Regions from separate parts of the Homo sapiens genome. Here region 2 is linked to region 1. The links come from fine-mapping of genetic effects on gene expression. A gene starts in region 1. The other region holds a variant in brackets. All regions are shown on one strand. Distances are between the middles of the regions.

Evidence for each region. PIP is the estimated chance that this variant, and not a neighbour inherited with it, causes the effect. A credible set is the group of variants that fine-mapping cannot tell apart.
Region 2: its variant is the best candidate, but not a certain one, in a credible set for the expression of CYTL1 in whole blood (TOPMed, PIP 0.58).

The regions. Positions count from the first base shown.
Region 1 is chr4:5,017,791-5,022,184 of GRCh38, reverse strand. CYTL1 (cytokine like 1) reads left to right here and starts at 2,727. Exons shown (of 4, transcript NM_018659.3): 1 at 2,727-2,892. The coding sequence starts at 2,740. It also overlaps a transcript of STK32B not described here.
Region 2 is chr4:5,038,204-5,042,597 of GRCh38, reverse strand. It overlaps LOC107986256 (a long non-coding RNA gene), which reads left to right. Exons shown (of 3, transcript XR_007058005.1): 2 at 1-77; 3 at 2,535-2,976. It also overlaps a transcript of STK32B not described here. Among named protein-coding and RNA genes, the nearest start is that of STK32B, 11 kb to the left of the region's middle. The variant C/T (reference allele first, on the strand shown) is at 1,918.

The DNA.
Region 1 (4,394 bases):
GATGCCAGGAGGCAAGTCAATGTATCATGCATAGGATGCGGAGGAACCCTGGAGAGGGCCAGAAAGCAGATAGAATTCCCGGATGCACACTGGCATGCATTGGGCTCGGCAGGCAAGCTTGTGTGTGTTGGGCTCGGCACAGGCTGTTTCTCCTTGTCTCCACCTGCCCTGGGAATCAGCACGAGGCACCCTCTCCTCTGGTGTTCTTCCCATTCATCCCACTCCTGGCTTGGTAGAGTGAGAGGTGGCGATTCTCTTGCACCTGGCCCAGTGCACAACAGCCTCATTCCTTGTCTCCCCACTGACTGTGACTCCTCAGGGGCCCAGCATCCACCATATCTCAGTTGGTACCAGTGACAGCTTATGGCTACAGCCACTTACTCATTCATTCTCATGCTCAATGGGAAGGCCTATAAGCCTCTTTGCAGCTCTGAGCTCAGCTGATTTACCCAAGAAGTCCCATGAATAACCACACACGGTATTGCGGGTGGAACAAGGTCAAGTCTCCCAGCAGTACATTTATCTCACAAATGACTCCTGTTTTCCAGCACAGCAATGTCTCCTTGATCTAATGGTGCAGGACTTGTTTGGTCCATGGGCTTGTTTTTCTTCCCTGCTCTGAATTTAAGCCCATTCCTTGAGCACATCCAGAAGCCCTAGAGCATTTTAAAGCAGACCTAGAGTCCCCAGCTGGGGCCAGCTATTCTGCCAGGGAGGCCCATGCCCCAGGCACTATCATGGAGGGAGTGTGGAGACTCCTTCACCCAGAAGAAAACACATCTGTGCCTCCACTTGCCACCTCCAAGCACACACAGTTCTGCCCGAAGGCCGCGGTCCCTATGTCATCTTGCTAAAGGTGTTTAGAGAACACATTCTCACCTACAAAACAGGAAGGCACAGCTTACAGTCCCTGCCCAGGGCTTTTACCACCAGAAACTAGATAAATAAAACACTGGGGCTGGAAGGAACCTCAGACATCGCCCAGCGTGATGCTATCCTGTTTACAGACAGGGAATGGAGGCCAGGTCGAGAAGGGATTTCTCCTGGCAAATACAGTGGGGACAAGCTGGAGCCGGGCTTCATCCCTGTGGTTGATCCTCAGTCCAGCCCTGTGTCCAGGATGCCATGCTCTGGTTCACCCATCCCTGTGGGCTGCATCTTTGGTTGTTTTGTTCTGGGAATGTGGAGCTTGCCCAGGATGCTCCCCTTTCCTCCTTTGTTGGAGGAAGCTTTGGAGGCAGGAAAGTCCAGACATAGCTCCAGGGCTCCACTGCTCTTCCCAGCTTCACATCCCCCGAGGCCCTCAGTTTCCTCGCCTGGGAATTGGGAATAACCCCATTCACTTCATTGGCTGGCTGTGAGGGTCATAGCGTTCCCAATGGCAGCTGGCCTGGTGGCTGCTGGTATGTAAGTCATGTTCAGTGTTAAGGAAGAATCTTCTCCCTTTTGACAGTTCCTTCTTGCTTGTTGCCTGATCTTGGGCAGCCTGAGGACCCCAACTCATCTCTGCCTGCAAGAGTCCTGCTCCTCACCCATCCTGCCCTGTGGGATGGAAGAATGGCAGGAGGACAGGGCCTGAAGTCTCATCCCAACCCATGTGCCTCCAGCTTTGTGACCTCCAGCAAGTTGCTGGAACTCTTGAGCCTCAGTTTTCCCACCTGGAAAATGGGACTCTTTTCTGTGGCACCTACCTCACAGAGACAATTGCTGGATTTAACAGAGACAGTGCTATTAGCTCCGATCACTTGGAAACACACAATGGGCCTGGCATGAGGCTTGCTCAGTCATGCTATATCCTGTTGATTCCTCACTATGGCCTTTTGAGTGAGCCACTCTCACCAGCCTCATCTCACAGATAAGGAGATGGAGGAAACACTGAAGAAACTTGCCCAAGGTCAAAGCCAGAAGGCGGTGACCCTGCTTTGCACCCACGGCGTCTAAGTGGAGAGCCTAGACCTTTACCTGCCACTGTCTTGGGAAGTTAGCCCTGAGGGAGATGCACTTCTTGAAAACTAACCCTTCCTGAGGGTCTGCTCTCCCTCGGGGCCTGTGCTGGGAGCTTGAGGTAGAAGAGGGTGGGGGTACTCACACTCCCCACACATACGGCCGCTCAGTGAGCCCATCCTCCGGACCGAGAGACACACACGGCTTCTGAGAGGCTGGGGGCCCTGGCCCAAGGCTCACCTACCTGGTTAGCGATTGATGGACGAGGACACCGGTGGCCTGACCGCAGCTCTGCATCCCTGCTCCACTGCGGGCTGCCTGGAGGGAGGGATGCTCAGTCATCCCCTGCTAGTCCCTTTCCCTCCTGGCACTATATCCATTTTGACAAACCGTGCCATCCAAACCCAGGCCTGACTGCCCACTCCTCTCCTCTGACCCTCCCCTCCTTCCATCTCTGTCCTCCTCTTATCCCCCACCCCTCTCCATCTGCTGTTCCTGCCTTTTCAGGAAAAGTCCCTGTGCAGAAAGAAATTTCTTGCTGAAAGTGTGGGGGAGGCAAAGCCACCCTCTGTCACCCCCTCCTCCAGGCAGCCCCTCCTCTTAACCTGGGGCTTTCGTGTCTGAGAGGATTCCTGTCCCGACCCTGCCCGGTGGGCGTGCTGGCTTCCTCTCTGCCACCCTGGATGGACCGCAGCCTGCGCTGGCCCCACAGGAAGTGGAGGCGTGGAGCCGCCCTGGACCACCCCCAGCCTGCATAAAGGGGCGGTCGGCGAGGCTGCACCAGCGCCTGGCACCATGAGGACGCCTGGGCCTCTGCCCGTGCTGCTGCTGCTCCTGGCGGGAGCCCCCGCCGCGCGGCCCACTCCCCCGACCTGCTACTCCCGCATGCGGGCCCTGAGCCAGGAGATCACCCGCGACTTCAACCTCCTGCAGGTCTCGGAGCCCTCGGTGAGTCCCCCGCCCGCTCAGGACAGGGGTGCATGGCAGACCCAGTTCTTAAACCCTTGCCTTTACACGAAAAAAAAAAGAGAGAGAGAGAGAAAAGGATATTTTTCTTTTCTAGTAAATGTAAATCTCAGGAGTATTTGTGTTTTATTCATCTCCTTTTAAATATGATACCAATGGTTTGCTTTCTTCAAAACACAAGAAAAAGTAAAGACAACACAATTTTTGTGACTTACTAGCAAATATCAAAGGATCTGTTGTAAAATGTAAAAAAAAAAAAAAAAAAAAAAAAGAAAAAAGAAAAAAAAAGGAGTGGGAGGATGGGGAGAAAAACAGCTCCCCATCAGAGTTAAGGAGGACGGAGGAATGAAGCTTGTGTATTGCTTTTGTTAGCCTAGTGAGGAGTGTGCCCTAAGAGGTGGCTCACAGAACTGGCCTCCGCCCCTCATCTGCTGAGGGACCCGGGCAAATTTCTCAGCCTCTGCCTTTCAGTTTTCTTGTCTGTAAAATGGGATGACAGTAGCACCCCTCCCTTTAGAGTGGCTTTGACGATCAAAGGCAGGTGTGAACACAGGCAGGGCTCACAGAGCCAAGCCTACAGGAACAAGTACTCAACAGATGCCAGCTGATGTGAGCACGATCTTCAGAGGCAGATCTGGGGACTCAGAGAGGGGAAGACCCGGGAGGGCTTTTGGGGACTAGAACCCAGGCCTCTGCCTGCTTCTCCGTCGAAACAAAATGCATTAAACTTCATTAAAAGCTTTTGTAAAGTTTCAAAGTGTCTTTTAATCACTTGCAAATGCTTCAAACAAAACATAATGTTTCTCAGATGTTGGGGTTTACAAAAGCCTAGCTAACACCTTCTTGGTATTTTCTTTTTAAAAGTTAAATAACATGTATTTTTTCCCTAATTATAAAAGTATTGTACTTTGTAGAACAGTTGGAAAATAAAGTACAAAGAAGAAAAAAAATCTTGCTTGTAATTCTACCACCTAGAGGTAGCTGCTGCCGTAGCATTGTGGAGGATCATATTTCAGCTTTCTGTCTACATATAGGTATTCAAATACGTGTGTGTTGTGTGTGTGTGTGTGTGTAAACAAAATTTGGGTCAAACAGCACAAGCAGTTTTGCAACTTACTTTTTAATGACACTATCAAATAAGTTCATTTTTGTTTTAACATTTTGTTGTACAGTTTCACCACAATTTACCCACAAGTTTCTTGTTATCGAATATAGACAGCAATCATCTTTTAAAGGAATCTGATTTTAAAAGGTTTAAAAAGTTCAGAGGCTCTGAACCACAGAGCGGGAAGAAAGTGGAAAGATTATGCATTCTAAATCTCTAATTTCACAACTGAGGACTGAAGGAAGGCACTTGCCCATGGTCACACGGGGATTACTGAGAGGGCAGAGCACGAGGGCTTTTGCCCTTCAGCCCTGCGCAAAAACGGAAGCCCAATATAGAAATATAAAAGTATGCAAATTTATGCACTTCGATATTACTA
Region 2 (4,394 bases), 20 kb before region 1:
AAATGCGAGCCATGGCTCTTCATGGCTGAAGGAATTGGTCACCTAACACTGACACGGTCTGGAAGAATTATTTTGAAGTAAGTACATTCCTTCTACTTCCTACACTATGTTAAGTGTCATCCAGTCTCCTCAAGAGAGAATGGCGGAACTTGGGGGTCAGCTGTGCTCCAGATGAAGTCAGCTCCAGGTCTTGCCCTCTTGCCTGGCTCACAGATGGATGAAGTTTTATAAAGTTCTTCTAATTATGTGCAAAACAATAAAATATAAACCAACTACTTATATGTGCTGAGTCTGCTTGGCTTTCCCAGAACGTAGACTATGGAGAGATCATGGAAATTATGGTTTAGAACTTCTCCTGTGGCTCTAACAAGGGGTTGAGCACATGACTCTTGTTACTTCTCAAATCCCAAATGTAGGCACAGAAATATGAACTGGGATTCTTTTTCTGACTTACATGTACATGAGTAGAGTCTTGTGGCTGCTATTCCTCTTGCTGAGAACACAATCAAGTAATCACCATACTTGCATTTGGAGCCATAAACCCTAAAGCCGTAACATTTAATTTTATGTAACACGATCACGCTGTAGAAGCTAATGTGATTCCCTGGAGCAGGGCGTCTTCTGTGCCAAGCCATTTTGTAGAGTCTGCTATATCAGATTTTGTTATCGTTTATGTTAAGCCTATTTTATTTAAAACTTGAGTCTGGTTTGCTTAGAGTAAATACCGTCTGCTTGCACTCAATTTCAATATGTTCTGTTTGGCAGCATTGTGCATTGTAAAGAAAAAAAAAAAGATAAAGGCTGTTTTGTGGCACACCAAGATAAGAAATAGTTTGCACATCCAGTTCTGTTGTTGAAAGTCATCTCACTCAGATAGCGAATTATCCATAATGACTTAAAAATAATAACTTCAAGAGCAGTCTTTTATTGTTAAGAGTCTTTATGTGTGCGTGTGTGTGCGTTGAGTGCTCACTCAAAATAGGGGTCCATAAATTGCTACTAATGTAGAGTGTCTGCATTTCTTGGCATTATAAAACTTCCCTAGAGGCATTTTCATAGTTGGGAACTTGGTAGCCCAGCAATTCTGAGCTTCTTGTTCTTACATTAAAATAATTTGCATAGTAGCTCCATGGTGACCTCAAATTAAGTGTCTGTGGAGAATTCTAGCTGTACTGTGAACCAGGCTGGGTCAGAAGGAAGGCTCCGTAGCTGCCAAACGCAACATCTGTGCAATGTATTTCATTGTATTCTTGCCTGGGTTTATAGGGATTCTTAGGGGCTTAAGGGAGTCGTCATGAACACTCTGAAACTGTACTTGAACTTGTGTGTGTGTGCGTGTGTTGTCTGCTTGCACATATTTGGTTATTTTTATAGGAAGAGAGTCAAAATCTGTCACAGCTCTTTAAAAGGCTCCATGAACCCACCCATTTCCCTGAAGAAAAGGACTCAGAAGCAGTGATGTAAAGAATCGTTTCTATCAACGAGAAGAGACTCCTCTTTCAGAAAGCAGGAACCATACGTAGCAGAAGTGATAACAATGACTTACTAAAAGGCACTAGACACAGTCACATGACACATAACGATGTCTCCATCAAGGATGGGCCGCACACCCAACAGTGGCCCCATGAGATGAGACTACTGTATTTTTCTGCACCTTTTCTGTGTATGCATACACAAATACTTGCCAATGTGTTACAGTTGCCTAGGGTATTCATGCTGCACAGGTTTGTAGCCTAGGAGCTATTGGCTACACCACATAGCCTGGGCATGTAGTCAACTGTACCATCTTGGCATGTGGTGACAACGCATATCTCAGACCATGTCCCATGGTGAAGCAACATCTGACTATATTGAGGTAGCCAGTGTGTGGCCTACAGGGCAGGAGACAGGCCTTAAAAGTTCTACTGCTTGGCCGGG[C/T]GCAGTGGCACCTGTAATCCCAGCACTTTCAGAGGCCAAGGAGGGCAGATTACGAGGTCAAGCGATTGAGACCATCTTGGCCAACATGGTGAAACCCTGTCTCTACTAAAAATACAAAAATTAGCTGGGCATGGTGGCACTCATCTGTAATCCCAGCTACTCGGGAAGCTGAGGTAGGAGAATTGCTTGAACCCAGGAGGCGGAGGTTGCAGTGAGCCAAGATCGTGCCACTGCTCTCCAGCCTGGCGACACAGCGAGACTTCGTCTCAAAAAAAAAAAAAAAAAAAAAAAATTCTACTGCCACTGCCTCATCATGTGCACTGAGAGAAGTCACTTCCCTTCTATAGGCCTCATTTTCCCCATCTGTAAACTGAAAAAAATGAAGGAGTTGGGCAGTGTGGCAGAGACACCTACTTGTTCATGGTATCCACTTACCCCTTCTTTCTTTTTACAAATAGAACATACACCTCCAGTGTTAGCTGAGCACATGGCCACTGGGCTAGGGACTAGGTGTTCCAATTGCCTTTGCAGGTGGGAGTGGCCATGGAATTAAGTTCCAGCCAACAGGATGTGAGAAATGACACATGCACCGACCGCATCTCCTACCACTCCTGCAGGCTGTGATGACCACCTGAAGACCTGCTGGGGAGGACGGCACTCCAGGGAGTAGCAGAGCAACCACAAGGAAGTAGCCGTGGTGTGGGACGTCCTCATGTAGCAGAATGGCCTACCTGACCTGGACCGCCTACTGCCTCTGGACTGTTAAGAGAGGATAGACACTGTCTTGGTGATACCACTTAACAGTCGTGTGCAGCATCATGACATTTTGGGCAGCAATGGACCACATGTACAATAAGATTATCACAGAGCTCAACATTCCTATTTCCTGGTGACATGGCAGCCATCATGACTTCGTAGCACAATGCATTCCTCACGTGTTTGCAGTGGTACTGGTGTAAACACACCTCCTTGCACTGTCAATCATAGAATTTAGCACATAGAATTACATACAGTACATAACACCTGATAATGATAATAAATGACTATGTTAAAAGTTTATGTACTTACTATACTTTTATCATTATTTTAAAATGTGTGCCTCCTATTTATGCAGAAAAAAGTTAGTTATGAAGCAGCCTCAGGCAGGTCCCCCAGGAGGGATTCTAGAAGAAGGCATTGTTATCCTAGGAGATGACAGCTCCATGCATGTCACTGCCCCTAAGACTGTCCAGTGAGCAAGATGTGGAAGCAGAAATTGATGATCCCGACCCTGTGAGACCTAGGCTAATGTGCGTATTTGTGTCTTAGTTTTTAACACAAAGTTCTAAAGAAATTTTTAAGTAGAAAAACGCTTATAGATTCAGGTTATAAAGACAGAAAGTGGCCAAGTGTGGTGCCTCGTGCCTGTAATCCCAACACTTTGGAAGGCTGAGGTACACAGAAGGATCACTTGAGTCTGGGAGTTTAAGACCAGCCTGAGCGACATAGCAAGACCCCATCTCTACCAAAAATACAAAAAATATATATATATCTGGGCATGATGGCATATGCCTGCCATCCCAGCTATTCAGAAGGCTGAAGTGGGAAGATTACTTGAGCCCAGGAGTTGGAGACTGCTGTGGGCTATGATCATGCCACTGCACTCCAACCTGGGCAAAAGAGTAAGATCCCATCTCAAAAAAAAAAAAAAAAAAAGAAAGAAATTTTGTATAGCTGTACAGTATGTTTGTGTTTTATGCTATGTTATTACAAAAGAGTCAAAAAGTTTAAAAATATTAAAAAGTTCATAAAGTAAAAAAAGTTATAGTAAGTTAAGGCTAATTTATTATTAAAGAAATAAAATATGTTTTTATAAATTGAGTGTAGCCAAAGTGTACAGAGTTTCTGAAATCTAAAGTATAATACAGTCATGTCCTAGGCCTTCCCATTCACTCACCAGCTACTCACTCATCCAGAGCAACTCTCCAGTCCTGCAAGCTCCATTCATTGTAAGTACCCTATCCAAGTTTATTATTGTTTATTTTATACCTTATTTTTATAGTCCCTTTTCTGTATTTAGATAGATTTAGATACACGAATACTTTGTGTTAACAAATGCATTGTGTTACAGTTGCCTATGGTGTTCAGTACAGTAGCATGCTGCACAGGTTTGTAGCCTAGTAGCAGTAGGCTAGACCATGCAGCCTAGGCATATAGTAGGCTTCACCACCTAGGGCTGTGTAAGTATTCTCTATGATTTGTGCAGCAATGTTTGCACAATGCTGAAATTGCCCAACACACGTTTCTCAGAATGTATCCCCGTCATTAAGCAATGCATGACTATGTTTTGAATTTGGGGATTCCTTTGGTTCATCAGCTTAATCCATATCTAAACAAATGCAGACTCGTTGAGGCCAAGGTCATCATTGTCATCGTCATCCTTCCTTGCCTCCAGAACGATATAGGTACCTAACAAATGTTCAGCAAAATGAAAGAAT